Regions from separate parts of the Homo sapiens genome. Here region 2 is linked to region 1. A link means that fine-mapping ties the variant in region 1 to the expression of a gene that starts in the linked region. Tissue or cell type: whole blood. Region 1 holds a variant in brackets; the other region holds the start of a gene. All regions are shown on one strand. Distances are between the middles of the regions.

The links. PIP is the estimated chance that this variant, and not a neighbour inherited with it, causes the effect.
Region 2: it holds the start of LHPP, and the variant in region 1 is fine-mapped to the expression of LHPP in whole blood (TOPMed, PIP above 0.99).

The regions. Positions count from the first base shown.
Region 1 is chr10:124,573,885-124,581,986 of GRCh38, reverse strand. The region is part of intron 6 of LHPP (phospholysine phosphohistidine inorganic pyrophosphate phosphatase); the gene reads right to left. Among named protein-coding and RNA genes, the nearest start is that of LHPP, 120 kb to the right of the region's middle. The variant G/C (reference allele first, on the strand shown) is at 3,704.
Region 2 is chr10:124,456,777-124,464,874 of GRCh38, reverse strand. It overlaps LHPP (phospholysine phosphohistidine inorganic pyrophosphate phosphatase), which reads right to left and starts at 3,052. Exons shown (of 7, transcript NM_022126.4): 1 at 2,888-3,052. The coding sequence starts at 3,012. RefSeq lists enhancers at 195-695, 696-1,196 and a silencer at 2,713-3,172.

The DNA.
Region 1 (8,102 bases):
CATGGTGAAACCCCATCTCTACTAAAAAATACAAAAAATTAGCTGGGTGTGGTGGTGGGCACCTGTAGTCCCAGCTACTTGGGAGGCTGAGGCAGGAGAATGGCATGAACCCAGGAGGCGGAGCTTGCAGTAAGCCAAGATTGTGCCACTGCACTCCAGCCTGGCCGACAAAGCAGAATCTGTTTAAAAAGAAAAAATGTGTGTGTGTGTGTGTGTGTATATACATATATGTATGTATTAAAATTGTGCAAAAAATTTGAATAGACATTTCTCCAAGGAAGACATACAGGTGGCCAATAAGTACAAGAAAAGATGCCTGACATCACTAGTCATCATTGTAGGGAATTGCAAACCAAAATCTGAATGAGATAGTACTTCACCAGCCACTAGAATGGCTAGAATTAAACAGTCAGATAAGAAGCGTTGGTAAGGACATAGATAAATCAGCCCTCATACACTACTGGTGGGAATGTAAAATGGCATAAAATGGTGCAGCTGCTTTTGAATAGTCTGGCAATTCCTCAAGTGATTAAAAATAGATACCACGTGACCCAGCAATTCCACTCCTTAGGCATATATTCAAGAGAAATGAAGACCTATGTCCACACAAAAACTTGCCCATGAATCCTTATAGCAGCATTACTCACAATAGCCAAAGGCAGAAACAACCCAAATATACACTAACACAGGAATGAATAAATAACTGTGTTCTATCCATACAGTGGAGCATTATTCAGCCATAAAAAGAAATGAAGTCCTGATACATGCTACAACATGGATGAACCTTGAAAACACGCAGAGTAAAAGAAGACAGAAAAGGCCACATACTATATGACTCCATTCATAAAAAATATTTAGAACAGGGAAACCCACAAAGGCAGAAAGCAGATGAGTATTTGCTTAGGGTTACAGAGATGAGGAGGTAACTAAAGGGTACAAGGTTTATTTGGGGGTAATGAAAATAGCCGGGCATGGTGGCTTACGTCTGTAATCCCAGCACTTTGGGAGGCCAAGGCGGGTGGATCCCAAGACCCAAGATCAGGAGTTCAAAACCAGCCTGGCCAACATGGCGAAACCCCGTCTCTACTAAAAATACAAAAATTAGCTGGGTGTGGTGGCGGGTGCCTGTAATCCCAGCTACTCAGGAGGCTGAGGCAGGAGAAGTGCTTAAACCCAGGAGGCAGAGGTTGCAGTGAGCCAAGATTGTGCCATTGCACTCTAGCCTGGGTGACAACAGCAAGACTCCATCTCAAAAAAAAAAAAAAGAAAAAAAAAAAGAAAATGTTCTAAAATTGACTGATAGCGATGGTGTATGAATATAATAAAAACATTAATTATTCACTTTAGATGGGTAAATTGTATCATGTGAATTATGTCTCAATAAAGCTTTAAAGATACATTTAACAGGAACTGATAAATATGAAAAGCTGACATGACAGAGGTGGCATTATAAGTCAGTGAGAGAAAAGGTGGACTACTCAAAAGTGATAATGGAACAACTGTTATCCACATAGAAAATAAAATCAAATCCCTACCTCACACCATATACACAAGTCAAATTCAAGTAGATTTGGAACCTGAATGTGCAAAGCAAATCTTTAGAACTCCTGAAGGAGAATGTAGAATATCCTTCTTTCTAAGTATAACAAGGAGAGGGATGAATTTCTTAGACAAGATAGAAAATGCACAAACTACAACATCATGATTAATACATCTGATTATATTTTAATTTAAAACTGTGTCCCAATAAGAGGCCATAAACAAAGTGGAAAGACAAACCACAGACTGGGAGCAGATGTGTGCACCACATATAACTGACAAACGAGTGGGAGTGAAATGTATAAAGAATGGCTACAAATCAGTAACAAGCATTCCACAGTGAAGCTACAAAGGATATGAATAGGTAATTCACAAAAAGGAAGTTTCAATGGTCAAGGTCATCAAACATTTGAAGAAGTGCTCAAGCACAGTAATAATATAGAAAATGTGGATTATATTACAACAAAATACCATCATAGTCTTAAGAGAAGAAGTTTAAAAAAATCTCACAATACCAAGAACTGGCCAGGATGTGGGATAATGGGATTCTTTCCTACTGCTGGAGGGGACAGAAATGGCACGTCCACTTTGGAGTCATCAACAGCGTATATCTAATTAGTAAAACAGAACATACATGTTTGCTCCAGCGAGCTCTTCTGCATCAGAGCTTGCAAAACTTCCTGGACCACAGGAATCACTTAAGTATCTGTTAAAAGAAAGAAAAGATTCCTGGCTCCAAATATCAGACCCACCAGAGCAGACCTGGAAATATGTATATTTAACAAACTCCCCAAGGTGACCATATTACCCGGCAAGTTTGGAGAAAAATGCTCTGAAGAACACCTAGCACCATATTTGCACAAGGAGACACATCCAGAGCTGTTCACAGAAGTGTGATCTGTGATCATGAAAAAAACTGGAAACCGCCTACATGTCCATCATCAGGGGACTGGAATATAAATTGTGGGACAGCCATACATTGAAATGCTACAGCACAGTTCTGGCCTCCTTCCTGGCCAACACTGAAATGCTGATTTCCAGAGGCCGGCCAGGCCTCAGAATGAATAGGTGCTATGTAAGTTTTCCCCTGTTGGCGCCGTGTCCGCGAATATAGTTGAGGGGAAACTGGACGGCACTCAGTGCTGTGATTCTTCTGCCTTCCCCAGAGTTGACTGCCTCCCAGGCAGGACTGACTCAGACTGGCCAGCGCCCCGGTGGTGGGCTGCCTGCTCAGAGGGCGCTCAGAACGCTCGGCCCGGGAGATGTTCCTTAAAGAGGGGCTGTCCGTAAGCTCCTCTGGGGAATATGAGATACACACCCACTCTCAGCCCGTTACAACATGTATCTGCTTGCTGGTAACCGGGAAGACCTGCCTTAGAGCCACTTCGACGGGGAGACCCAGTGACTGTGCCTGGAACAGCCTCAGGGGAGTGTGCCAGCTTCAAGCAGCCAGAATTTCCCAGGCTTACACAGCGGACCCCCCCGTCCGTGCTATCCTGCCCCTGGGAATCCCTTCTGGCCCTCCAGGGAGGCCTGAGGCCTCTGAGCAGCCTAAGATGGGTGGAGCCAAAGCTAAAGCAGCACTCAGGGCTGTGAAGAGCTTTTTTCCACAGTCAGGACAAAATGTGCCAGGCACTGGCCCCATGCCCCCTAGGTGCTGGGCTGCACTGGATGGTGGGGGTGCAAGCGGGGAGGGCAGAGATGCTGCTCAGCCCCTGCTAGCTTCTGACGCGTGGCGCGGTGTAAGCCCTGCATCCAGCAACTGTGCCTATGTCCCCTCAGCTCTGTGCCACCACAGCACCTGCCACACACACAGTTACATCCTCCCTGAACCCTCTCCCTCCCACACTGGCCAAGGCAGGGTGAGATGTCACCCTCTGAGCTCCCCAACACCCTGTGCCTCCTGATCAGAGCCCGTCACACCAGTGGTAACCGTTTGCGTCCCGCCAGTCCTTCACAGCAGACGCTCCACCTCAGAGACACTCAAGAACCCCTGCTGAATAAATGAATGGATGAATGAGTGAGCAGATCGGAGAAGGACACGTGAGGGCCAGTGACACATCGGGCTCCGCAGAGGACCCCAAGCCATGCCTGTGGCCCTGTGGCTCACCTGTCAAGTGGGGACTCGCAGAGCCGCCCCTGAGGTGGTCACGGGGCGTGTGCT[G/C]AGCACAGAGCCAGCAGCCCCTGCACGGACTTGGTCTTCGTTCTACTCCCTTGCAAATGCCCTGGGAAGCAGGTCAAGGCTATCAGCAGGGAGCAACCTGTGAAGGCTTCCTGGAGGTGACAGCATGTGGTGGGGCCTAGGAAGGCAGTGGGAACTCCAAATGTGTCTATGGGAGGAAGAGCGACTCAGGTGTGTGCCTGACCACTGTCCTGGGGCTTGGTCCCAGTCAGGTTCTCGGCTGGGGCCACTCTAGCACACCTGGCATAGAGGAAGAGGTCCTTCCAGCCCTTGGAAAGCACAGTTAGAGGAAACCTGGGTGGCACTCCCAGGATGGGGCTGTGTGTGCTGCACCGAGGTGGGGACCAGTGTGGCCCCACCTCACCTCAGGTAGCTCAGAGCCTGGGGGCTGAGAGGTCACACAAGGAGCTGGAGTAGCTGAGTACAGTTGTGACGGGGCCACAAGATTCAAGTCCCAATGCTGCCAGAGTGGAGGAGGGGCAGCCCCAAGGAAGGCCTTCCCCTGGGGAGGGATAGGAAGGTGAAGGTATGTGCATATGTGTGCACACATATGCATGTGCATGCATGTGTATTTACACATGTGTGCATGTATGTGTGCACACATGTGTAGGATGGGGCAGAACTGGTCACTGCTTCACATCAGGGAAGGAGAGATGACCACAGGGTGACATTTCAAAATGAGGAAGGCAGGGCCAGGCCTCTAAGGTTACCTGGTGCTGGGTAAAGAGGGACCTGGCTGTCCACCTGCCTCAGAGCCTCAGATTCCCTGGGGAACCTGAAAGCCGGAGGTGTGTCCTCTGGAGAGTCTCAACTGACAGTTTATGCAGCTAATTAAGTTTTTTCTTTGGATCCATAAAATCTCAGGGTGGACTCATTCCAAGGGATGCCTTCCTTTAAAGAAAAGGTTAGATGGGAAAAGGCTGTATGGGTGGGCCAGGGGTGGGAGGTGACCCCTGTGCCCAGGAGGCTGGGGTGGACGCTGGGGATGGTCTAGTCTTGGGTTGGCTGGGCTTGGCTGAGCCACCCTGGCCTCGGCCATCAGACACACAGCCTGGCGGTCGGGAGCACAAGCTCAGGACCCATCAGCCTACCTGGCCCTTCTCCTGGTCCAGCACGGACCCACCTGAGCAGGCTATGGAACCTGTCTGGCCTCTGCTCTCCTAGCTCTGAAATGAGGATGACAATGGTACCTACTTTCTAGGGTCTGGAAAGACTGAGTATGCGCTCAGTAGACTCTATTATTCGGTTTCCTTATCCTCAAAATGCAAATTACAGTGCCTACTTTATTTCTGGGTCGTGGCTGTTGAGAGGGCGGAGCAATGTACCTGTGCACTCAGGATCATGGCGGGCCAAGTCCCCTTGACAGTGGCACATGGAGGCCTGGCTGTGGTCGGGTGCTCAGCAGCCCACCCACGGGCCCGGGCTGGATGAGGTATCGTGGGCTACGGAAGGACAGGTGCACGAGGGCAGGGCTTTGCACAAACACTAATGTGGTCTCCCCGTCTACAGGGCAGGTAACTCCTGCCCTAAAGAACCCCCCTCAGCCCCCCAGTACCCCCGCCCTCAGCTCTGCCTATCCCTCGCTCAGGGAAGGAGTTTTGTGTGTGCAGTGAGGAGACCTCTGTATCCCATATTACCAGCAGGCCTGGGGGCAGACCATGGAGGAGGGTCTGGGGGCGAGATATGGGGGAGTCTGGGGTAAGATATAGGGGTGGCAGCAAAGGGGGATCTGGGGGCAGGCCATGGAGGGGGGTCTGGGAACAGCATATGGTAGGGAGTGGGAGCAAGATATAGGGGTTCTGGAGGCAGGATGGATATGAGGGGGTCTGGGAGCAGCTCATGGAAAGGAGTCTGGGGGTGGGATATACGGGTACCGCAAGGGGGGTCCTGGGGGCAACCCCTGAAGTGGGGTCTGGCCCTGCTGCCACCCCAGCGCCCCCACATGCTGCCTCATACCCCACACTAGTACTTTATGTTCTGCCGGGTTGGTAATGGGTTTTTCTTTGAACACGTTTCTGGGAAAGCTGTATTCTCACTCCTGCCTGCCAGGTAGTTTTAACATGTGTGAGCACTCTATTAGGCAGTACAATTATAATCTCATGTGAAGTCACCCTCAGCAGCTGATCAAGCCCGGGGTGTTCAGTGAACACAGTGGTTAAGAAACCAGGTCTGAGAGCTCCGGACAATGCAGAAACGACCAATCCAGTGGGAACCCCCATTTCTTTCGGCTCATACCTTTCTCATGAAGCACTGATTAGTATGTATCACAGCAGGCCCCAAGGGATGTGAACGTTTTCAGGGGGCCACCAGGCTGCCCAGACCCCCGACCTGGCACCCAGGTCCTCACCCAGCCCTGGCTCTCTGCCGTCCAGGCACCTCATGCCCCTGCGACCTCGCACACCCAACACGCCAGCCTTTCCTTCACTCACTCATCCACATGCACAATGCCTTTGGGGGTCAGGGTGTGGGGGACCGGGATGCAAGTTGGAGGTGGTGAGAGTGCAGGGGACACAGATCCGACCACGTGACGCAGTGGCAGTGGGTCCAGGGAAGCTGGTGCAGGAGTGGACAAAGGGGGCCAGGACGAGGGGAAAGACAGACACAAGGGCCAGCCAGTCCTGCAGACGCCTACAGAGGTCTCTGCTCAGAGCTTGGACCAAAGTGCTGAGGTAGGAGTCAAGAAACCCTGTAGCTCCTGCCCCCAGGAGAGGCTGCAGGACATGGGCACAGGGGACTGTCATGGAAAATCAGGGGCTGACGCATCCTAGGAAGAACAAAGCAGGGGTCCTGCAGAGAGAGAACCGGGTGCTTCTGCCTCAGGCAGCTGGAGAGGGCTTCTCCAAGTAAATGGCGTATTAGGGAGTGAACTGTACCTCCGCCCCCACTGAAGCCCTAAGCCCCAGTGTGCCTGTCCTTGGAGATGCGGACAGCTTGGTTTTGTCGGATGCTCCCCATGGTTAGGCTGAGTGGTGCGTTGGGGCAAGGGCACCTGCAGGAGGTAAGCTGCCCTTCTCAGCACACCAGGGGTGCACGCCGCTTCATGACTGGTGACATGAACCTTGATCACCTGGCCAAGGCTGTGTCCACCAGGATTCTCCACCGTAAACTTCCTATTTTGCCCTTTGTAATTGCTCAATATTTGGGGGTGGGGGGAATTACTTTAAGACTATGCAAAAATATTCTGTTTCTGCTTAAACTCCCCAAGGGCTCTGTTTCGAGGCTGCCAAGTTTGAGATACTTCATGATGGCAAGGGGGAGGTTGCATGGCTACTGATGGCAGCTTCTGAGCTCAGGGGAGGGCCCGGCAGGAGGCAGAGGCTGGAGAAGCATCATCTGGCTGGGTTTAAGGCCACAACCCAGGTGGGTTCCCTGGGGAGAGAGTGGAGAAGGACAGCAGTGGGCCCAAGCCTGGAGCCCATGACCTGGAAGATCAGGAAGGGATGGAGGCCTCAGGAAGACGAGGAGGGGTGTGCTTCAGGATGGCGGCCCCTCTCCCACCTCTGGACCTCCGACCATGCCCTCCCCCAGCCTCAGCTCCACTCCCTCCTGCTCTGTCCCTACAAATCCCCCCTCTGGCCCTACGGGGCCCAAATCAGATGCTGCCTCCTCCAGCACCATTCCAGGCACCCGGTGGGATGCGACCACTCCCCTCCCTCGGCGCCACCAAACTCAGGACTTTGGTTGACCCTTGGGTCAGCACAGGTGCCGGGTTCAGATCGGCCCTGGGAGCAGGCTCCAGGTCTGAAGCTCTGCAGCCCCCGGTGCCCACAGCTTCTGCACACAACACCTCCCGCAGATCAAAGCCAGACTGAGCTCCCGCCCATCCTCGAGCCAGGCTCTCTGCCTGTGAAGTTCTGGGGACTCGAGGGGACTATGCCGAGGGCCCCTCTTGGGGCCCTGCTCTTGGTGGCGAGCGAATCCGTGCGCGCCCTCGCAGGGGGGCGAGCCTGCTGCTGGCGATGCTCCCGGCTCACGCCCCCCAGCAAACCTGTGCCCCTCAGCGCCACGCTGCCTGTTTGCTGTGGCTGCGCGCTGAGATCCATATGTCAAAAACGACTTACTGTTCTGCGCGGCAGCAAATATTTTGGCAGGCGGGTCTCATCTGCTTGTCTTTCGGGTTTCACACATGTGCACGCAGATGACACATGTGGTCTATGGGAGGCAGAACTCACAGGGGCGTTGGGAGGAGCCAGCACCAGGGCTTCGTGTCCCCTGGACCACGCCAGGTGCTCCTGCAGCCTCCATGGGTGACACCTGTGGGGCAGCACGGTGGCTCCAGGGGAGCCAGGTCCCTGGAGGCTGTGGGGGTGGCTTTTTGATTCCCAGGTCTCAGACATAAACTCGGACCTGAGTCTCATGTAAACAAAATCAGCGTTTGGGT
Region 2 (8,098 bases), 120 kb after region 1:
ACTCATGTCATTTCTCACGCATGAGACAAGGACAAATTCTCAGAAGTGGAACCACTGGTAGATAATGTCAAATGTATCTTCCGCAAGCAATGAGTGGCAGGGTCTCCCATGAGGCCTTGCCTGCCCCAGTCACAGCATTGAGCTCTGGCTTCCTGCTCCCCAGATGAGGCCCACTTCACCCCAAAACACTGCCCAGAGCCCTCTGCTGGATTCCCACCAGTGCCACTCACAGAATGCTCTCATCTGTGACTGAGCTAGTCTAAAGCTTTGGAGTAATGGAGAATAAGGTCAGGAATGCACTTAACCCTGAACTTCAGCCAACACTGAGAGCAGACCCAGGACCCAGCGGAGTGTCCTAGGTCTGGGCTGCCCTTTGTGCTTGCTCCTGGAAGCCAAGTCTCCCTGTTCCCAGTTCCCAGCCTCCCAAACACCTCCGGCTTCACTATGCGGGACCGTTTGGGTCCCTATTATCTCAGCAGCTCCCAGACATCAGACATGCAGATTGGTAGAATGGGGTCTCTAAGAAGGACCAAGAGACTCAGTTAATTGCCACCTACAGATAGGTATATTGAGTCCCAGTGACATCAGGCTACCAAGCCAGGGTGCCTCAGCTAGTGACTCCGGGAGGCCAAGTCCTGGCAGTTAGCCCTTCCCGGCTGCCTATCAACACATGGCAGTGCTGACCTGGGATGCCAACAGGAGGCCTTACAAAGCCCAGGTCCAGTGGTGCCAACCATGCTACTGAAAGTGTCCTTCTGGCTGGCCACAGTGGCTCACACCTCTAATCCCAGAACTCTGGGAGCTGAGGCAGGCAGATCACTTCAGCCCAGGAGTTCAAGACCGGCCTGGGCAACATGGCAAAACCCCATCTCTACAAAAAACACAAAAAAATTAGCTGGGCATGGTGGCACGTGCCTGTAGTTCCAGCTACTTGGGAGGCTGAGGTGGGAGGATCTCTTGAGCCCTTGAGGTAGAGGTTGCAGTGAGATTGAACCACTGCACTCCAGCCTGGGTGGCAAAGTAAGACCTTGTCTCAAAAAAAAAAAAAAAAAAAGAAAAAAAAATTAGGCCAGGTGTGGTGGCTCATGCCTGTAATCCTAGCACTTTGGGAGACCAAGGCAGGAGGACTGCCTGAGCCAAGGAGTTCAAGACCACCCTGGCAACATAATGAGACCTTGTCTCAAAAAAAAAAATTATACAAAGAAAAGTGTCAGCCAGGTGCGGTGGCTCACGCCTGTAATCCCAGCACTTTAGAAGGCCCAGGCAGGTGGATCAGTTGAGGTCAGGAGTTCGAGACCAGCCTAGCCAGTATGGTGAAACCCCATGTCTACCAAAAATACAAAAATTAGCTGGGCGTGGTGGCGGGTGCCTGTAATCCCAGATACTTGGGAGGCTGAGGCAGGAGAATCACTTGAACCTGGGAGGCAGAGGTTGCAGTGAGCCCAGATGGCGCCACTGCACTCCGGCCTGGGCAACAAGAGCAAAACTGTCTCAAAAAAAAAAAAGTGTCCTCATGGTCAAGTCTTGGCTGGCACGATGTTCTCTTCCTCCTCCTCTCACCTAAACCAATGCAGTCCAACAGAATTATAATGAGAGCCACAAAGGTAATTTAAAGTTTTCTAATAAGCACATTAACAAAAGTTAAAAAAAAAAGGTATACTTAATTTCAAATATTTTAACCTAAAACAGTATATTAAAAATATTATCAACTGGGCATGTGGCTCACGCCTATAATCCCAGCACTTTGGGAGGCCGAGGCAGGTGGATCACCTGAGGTCAGGAGTTAGAGACCAGCCTGCCCAACATGGTGAAACCCCGTCTCTACTAAAAATACAAAAAATTAGCCGGGTGTGGTGGCACATGCCTGTAATTCCAGCTATTCAGGAGGCTGAGGCAGGAGAATCGCTTGAACCTGGGAGGCGGCGGTTGCAGTCAGCAGAGATTGCACCACTGCATTCCAGCCTGGGCAACAAGAGCAAAACTCCGTCTCAAACAAAACAAATAAAAAAAGTAACTGGGCATGATGGCGGGTGCCTGTAATCCCAGCTACTCGGGAGCCTGAAGGGGGAGAATCACTTGCACCCGGGAGGCGGAGGTTGCAGTGAGCCGAGATCGTGCCATTGCACTCCAGCCTGGGCGACAGAGCAAGACTCCATCTGAAAAGAACAAAACAAAACAAACAAAAAGTATATCATTTCAACAGGCAAACAACATAACCCATTTTCATGTTTTTATTTTACATTTTACTCACGAAGTCTGGTGTTTTTGGGGGTTTTGTTTATGAGACCGTCTCGCTCTGCAGTCCAGGCTAGAGTACAGTGGGGTGATCACAGCTCACTGTAGCCTTGACCTCCTGGGCTCAAGCGATCCTCCTGCCTCAGCCTCCCAAGTGGCTGGGCCTACAGGCGTGCACCACCACACCCGGCTAATTTTTAAATTTTTGGCAGAGACGGGGTCTCCCTATGTTGCCCAGGGTGGTCTCCAACCCCCTAGCCTCAAGCGATCCTCCCTCCTCTGCCTCTGCAAGTGCTAGAATCACAGATGCGAGCCACCGCGCCCGGCTAAGTCTTGTTAATCGGTATGCATTTTACGCTTACAGCACATCTCAATTCAGACTGGCCGCAGGTCAAGCGCTCAGCAGCGCACGTACCAGGTGGCCGCCCTGTCTGACCGCGCAGCCCTAACCAGCAGAGTCCTGGTGCTCGCCGGGGGCAACAGTGGGGTCGTCCGTGGTCAGCACTGTGCGCGCACCGGGGTGGGAAGGGGGAGACCGAGGCGGGGCCTGCGCCGCGGCCCCGCCCCCTGCCGCCCCGCCCCCTGCCGGCAGCCAGGGAGCGGGCTGAGCTTAGAGCTCGGCGGCCCCAGCGGCGTCCCGGGGCCCACTCACCTGGCCACCGCCTCCACCGAGCCGGCGATGGCCGTGCCGCCGCCCGCGCCGCTGTCGTACAGCACGCCCGAGATGTCAAGCAGCACCCCGCGCACGCCAGCCAGCCGCTTGCCCCACGGTGCCATGGCGCCCGGCCCTGCTCCTCAGCTCCGCGTCCCAACCGACGCCGGCGCCGGCGCCGCGGCCGCGCAGGGGCGCCTGGGAACTGTAGTCCCGCGGGCGGGGCAGGGCAAGAAGACCGGGTGCAAACCCGGAACTGGGGCGCGGCCTGGGCACCCCGGCGTCACTCGCCCCTGAAACGGTGTCCTTTTCGGAAGCTTTCTTCCCAGGAGATCAGCGGACAAAGAGCAGGAAAAGCAGAAAACAAGTCCCTAAGAAAGGTCAAAGGCAAATTGAGACAAGAAGGCACCTGTAGCCAGGGGCGGTGGTTCACGCCTGCAATCCCAGCACTTTGGGAGGCAGAAGCGGGCGGACAGCTTGTGCCCAGGAGTTCTAGACCAACCTAGTCAACATAGTGAGACCCTGTCTCTATTAAAGAAAGAAAGAAAAAGTACAATACAAAATTGAGGCCGGGCGTAGTGGCTTATGCCTGTAATCCCAGCACTTTGGGAGGCTGAGGCGGGTGGATCGCTTGAGATCAGGAGTTCGAGACCAGCCTGGTCAACATGGTGAAACCCCTGTCTCTACTAAAAATACAAAAATCACCTAGGTGTGGTGGCGCATGCCTGTAGTCCCAGCTACTCGGTAGGCTGAGGCGGAAGAACCGCTTGAACCTGGGAGGCGGAGGTTGCAGTGAGCCGAGATTGCACCACTGCACTCCAGCCGGGGCGACAGAGCAAGACTTTGTCTTAAAAAAAAAAAAAATTATATGCAGATAACAGCCCTGCATAGATGAGGATGCATAGGACCTGGGCTGAGAAGAAAACGGGACTATCACAATGCGTTAAACCCAGGAGGTTTTTGGATAAGCTATAAAATACCACTCGATGCTACATTATTTTTGCAATAAATACACATTGATATTAAAAGGGAGGAGTTTCCTCAATGGCCCCTCGGAACCTTTCAAGTTATTAAATAGAAACGAGAACACTTTACTTCTGGTCCAACATAGCTTTGAGCTTTCAAAGAAGAGAGGATCATATTATTTCACCATTTCTTTTCAGGCTCTTGATTCACAGAAAGGATGAGGAATTCGTTGAAATGTTATGGGGTTCAATGAATTGTGTATATTTTGTTGACATGCTTACTAGGGGAGCTGTTTACAAGTGAAATAAAATACAGTTCCTACCCTTTGGGATTTCCACTAATGGGGTTGGGGAGTAGTATACCTTATATAAGGGTTCTTAGTCGCAGACAATAGACACCACTCCAGCTAGAGGGGTTTTGTTTACATGAGGTGAAGGAGCTTACAGATGACGGGTCTAAGTCCTACACAGCCAGGAGCCATGCAGCCACGAGAAACACTTAATTTTACTACTCCATTGGGACCACTGCCCCATCACTTAGTGCAGCCCCCAGCATAGCTGCCCCCAAAAGAACAAAACATATCCACCACTGTGCCCTCCACCTGTGGCCACCCACTCACTTTCACTGTGTCTGGCTTGGTGGAACCTAGCCCACGCTGCAAAGGAGTCTGGGAAATGCAGTTTTTAGTGTTCCAGGGGCTGAGTGAGTCAGTTTGGAGAATCTGCTAGGAACATCATGAACCGTACACGTATTGAGACCCTACTCTGTGCAGTGGGCACAAAAAAGTTCTAGGGTGTGATCCTTGCCTTCCAGGATCAAGACTGGGCAGAGAACAATGGAAGACCTTCACGACTGCTGACCAAATGTGTGCCAAGTGGCAATGAGTGACACAGACACAGTCAAGAGGATGACCTCTGCAGGCCTAGGAGGGCAGCTGTGGCTTCTGGGCAGGGGCAGCCTGAAATGGACCTTGGAGAATGGCTGGGCTTTAGCTTCATGCCAAGGAGGAGGAAAAGGGGTGCTTCTGCCAGTGGTGTGAGCCTACCCATAGTTGTTTCTTTTCAGTCAGCTCTGTGGGTACTCTTGGGCAAGTCCCTTTTCATTTCTACGACTACAGTAGACAGAATAGTGCCCCCTTGAGATGTCCACCTCCCAATCCCCACAACCTCTAAATATATTACCTGACATGGCAAAAGGGACTTAGATCTTGCAGAGCCTATGCTCCTGTAGGGAGATTATCCTGGATGGTCCAGGTGGGCCCAGTATAATGACATGAGTCCTCATAAGGGAAAGAGGGAAGCAGGAGAGAGTCAGAGTCAGAGAAGGAGGTGTGACAGCAGAAGCAGAGGTCAGAGAGAGAGGTGTGAAGATACCGTGCTACTGGCCTTGAATACAAAGGGGCCATGAGCCAAGAAATGCAGGTGGCCTCTGGAAGCTAAAAAAGGCAAAGAATTGGATTCTCCCCTAGAGCCTCCAGAAGGAATGCAGCCCTGCTGGTACTTCAAGTTTAGGACTTCTTACCTCCAGAACTATAATAATAAATCTGTTGTTTTAAGCCACTAAGTATATGGTAATTTCTTGCAGTAGTGACAAGAAACAAATACAGGGATCCAGGTCCCTCACCTGAAAAATGTGGCAAGTCTCTAAGTGTGGGCCACTGATAGGCTAAAACTTGATCTGAAAATTCCAGGCTTTTCTTGGGATGCAATGAGTGTAGGGCATTGTCTATGTTAGGGTTGCATTTGGCTACATGTAACAGAAACCCAGCCATAGTTGCCCAACCAAATCAGATTTTACTTTTCCTCATATATCAAGAAGCCAAGAGGGAGGAAATCCTGGATGGGACAACAGCTCCCAGGACCATCAGGCTGCCTCCTGCTTTCTGCTCCACCACTCTCTCAGCATGTGGCCTGCTCCTCACGCTAGCAAGATTCCTGCTCCACCCGAGGCATCATGACTGCATTTCAGGCAGGAAGGAGGGGAAAGAAAAGAAAAAAGGGCATGTGACAGCTGAGTCTGACCCTTTATACCCAGAAAGCAAAAGCTTTCCCAGAACCCTGATCCAATGGACTCTCATTTGCATCTTTTGGGCCAGAGCTAGCCAGGTGGCACATGAACACCATAGTGTGCCAGGAAGCATACACCACTGACTGAGCTTTCAGCCTGTTATAGCAAATCTACAACTCATGTCTGAATTTCAGCTCAACTATGAATCTATCAACCATCTATTGCTATACTAGACATATGCCTCATCCTTTCAGATTTGCTTGTCATAGTCAGGACTCTTCGGCTGCCAGTGACAGAAGCCAAATTTCAAATGGCTTCAATTTAAAGGAATTTATTGGCTCGCACAACCAGATAGTCTAGCAATGGACAGCGTCAGGCATGGCTGGTTATCAGCTCTGGGCTCACAGAGTCTCCGGTACACCACCTGGTGAGGATCCTTTTCCTCAACTTGGTCTGGCTGTTCCAGAAAGAACTCTGATTGGCTCTCTTGGGTCAGTGTCCCCCATTGTCTGTGTTCCAATGGAAGTGATACTGTGATGTTCCAGCCTGACTGGTGCCCTTACCAGGGCTGGAGGTGGGACACTTGCCTATAGTCCCACCATGACCAGAAGGAAAGGGAGAGGACAAGCCCTCCAGCAAAAAGCAGGGCGCATTAGCCGGACGTGGCAGCACATACGTGAAGTCCCAGCTACTCCAAAGGCTGGGGCAAGAAGATCACTTGAAGCTGGGCGTGGTGGCTCACGCCTGTAATCCCAGCACTTTGGGAGGCTGAGGCGGGTGGATCACGAGGTCAGAAGATCAAGACCAGCCTGACCAACATGGTGAAACCCCCATCTCCACTAAAAATACAAAAATTAGTCAGGCGTGGTGGCACACGCCTGTAATCCCAGCTGCTCAGGAGTCTGAGGCAGGAGAATCGCTTGAACCCGGGAGGCGGAGGTTGCACTGAGCCAAGATCACGCCACTGCACTCCAGCCTGGGCGACAGAGCGAGACTCCATCTCAAAAAAAAAAAAGAAGATCACTTGAACCTAGGAGTTGGAGGCTATAGTGTACATGACTGCAACTGCAACTGTGAATGGCCACTGTATCCTAGCCTAGGCAATATAGCAAGACTTCTCTAAAAAAAAAAAAAGAGAGAGAAAAGAAAGCAAAAAAGCAGGGCACTGTGAAAGAGGAATAAGGAAGCAACATGGTATAGGCAAAAGTAGCAGGTGCCCACCAGTCACCAAGACCTTTCTTATTATCAAATCCCATCTCCCTGGAAAGTGAGACCAGACCAAGTGAGGGCCATATGAGCCAAAGAATCTTCTGTTTTATTGAGATGGGCTATAGTGGAAAAAAAAATCAGAGCACCATTAATAACAGAAATGCTTCTCAGGCCGGGCACAGTGGCTCACACCTTGGGAGGCCAAGGCGGGCGGATTACCTGAGGTCAGGAGTTCGAGACCAGTCTGGCCAACACAGGGAAACATCGTCTCTACTAAAAATGTAAAAATTAGCTGGGCGTGGCGGCACAGGCCTATTGTCCCAGCTACTCGGGAGGTTGAGGCAGGAGAATCACTTCAACCTGGGAGGCAGAGGTTGCAGTGAGCCAAGATTGCGCCACTGTGCTCCAGCCTGGGCAACAGAGCGAGACTCTGTCTCAAAGAAAGAAAGAAAGAGAGAGAGAGAGAGAGGAAGGGAGGGAGGGAGGGAGAGAGAGAGAGAGAGAGAGAGAGAGAGAGAGGGAGAGAGAGAAAGAAAGAAAAAGAAAGAAAGAAAGAAAGAAAGAAAGAAAGAAAGAAAGAAAGAAAAAGAAAGAAAGAAAGAAAGAAATGCTTCTCAAACTTTAATGTGCATTAGAATCACCTGGAAGGCTTTTTAAAACAGGTTTAGATTCAGGAGGTCTGGGTGGCCCTAGGAACCTGGAAGATGGCTGTCAGTTGATGTGGGCTATTTTCTGGAGTCCTACACATGGCCTCTGCATGTGGCTTGTGTATCTCACAGCATGACAGCAAGAGTCAAAGAGGAAATGTCTCCAGGGCAAGTGTTCCCAGGGAACAAAGTGGAGGCTGCAGGGCTTCCTGTGATTTAGCTTTGGAAGTCACAGAGTCACTTCAGCCATGTTGTACTGGTCACCCAGGGCCAGGCCAGGCTCAGTGTGGGAGTGGATGACACAGGGGCATGAGCACTAAGCAGCATGGTTGATTAGGCGTGGCCATTTTTTGAGGCTAGATACCGCAACAAGTATACCAGT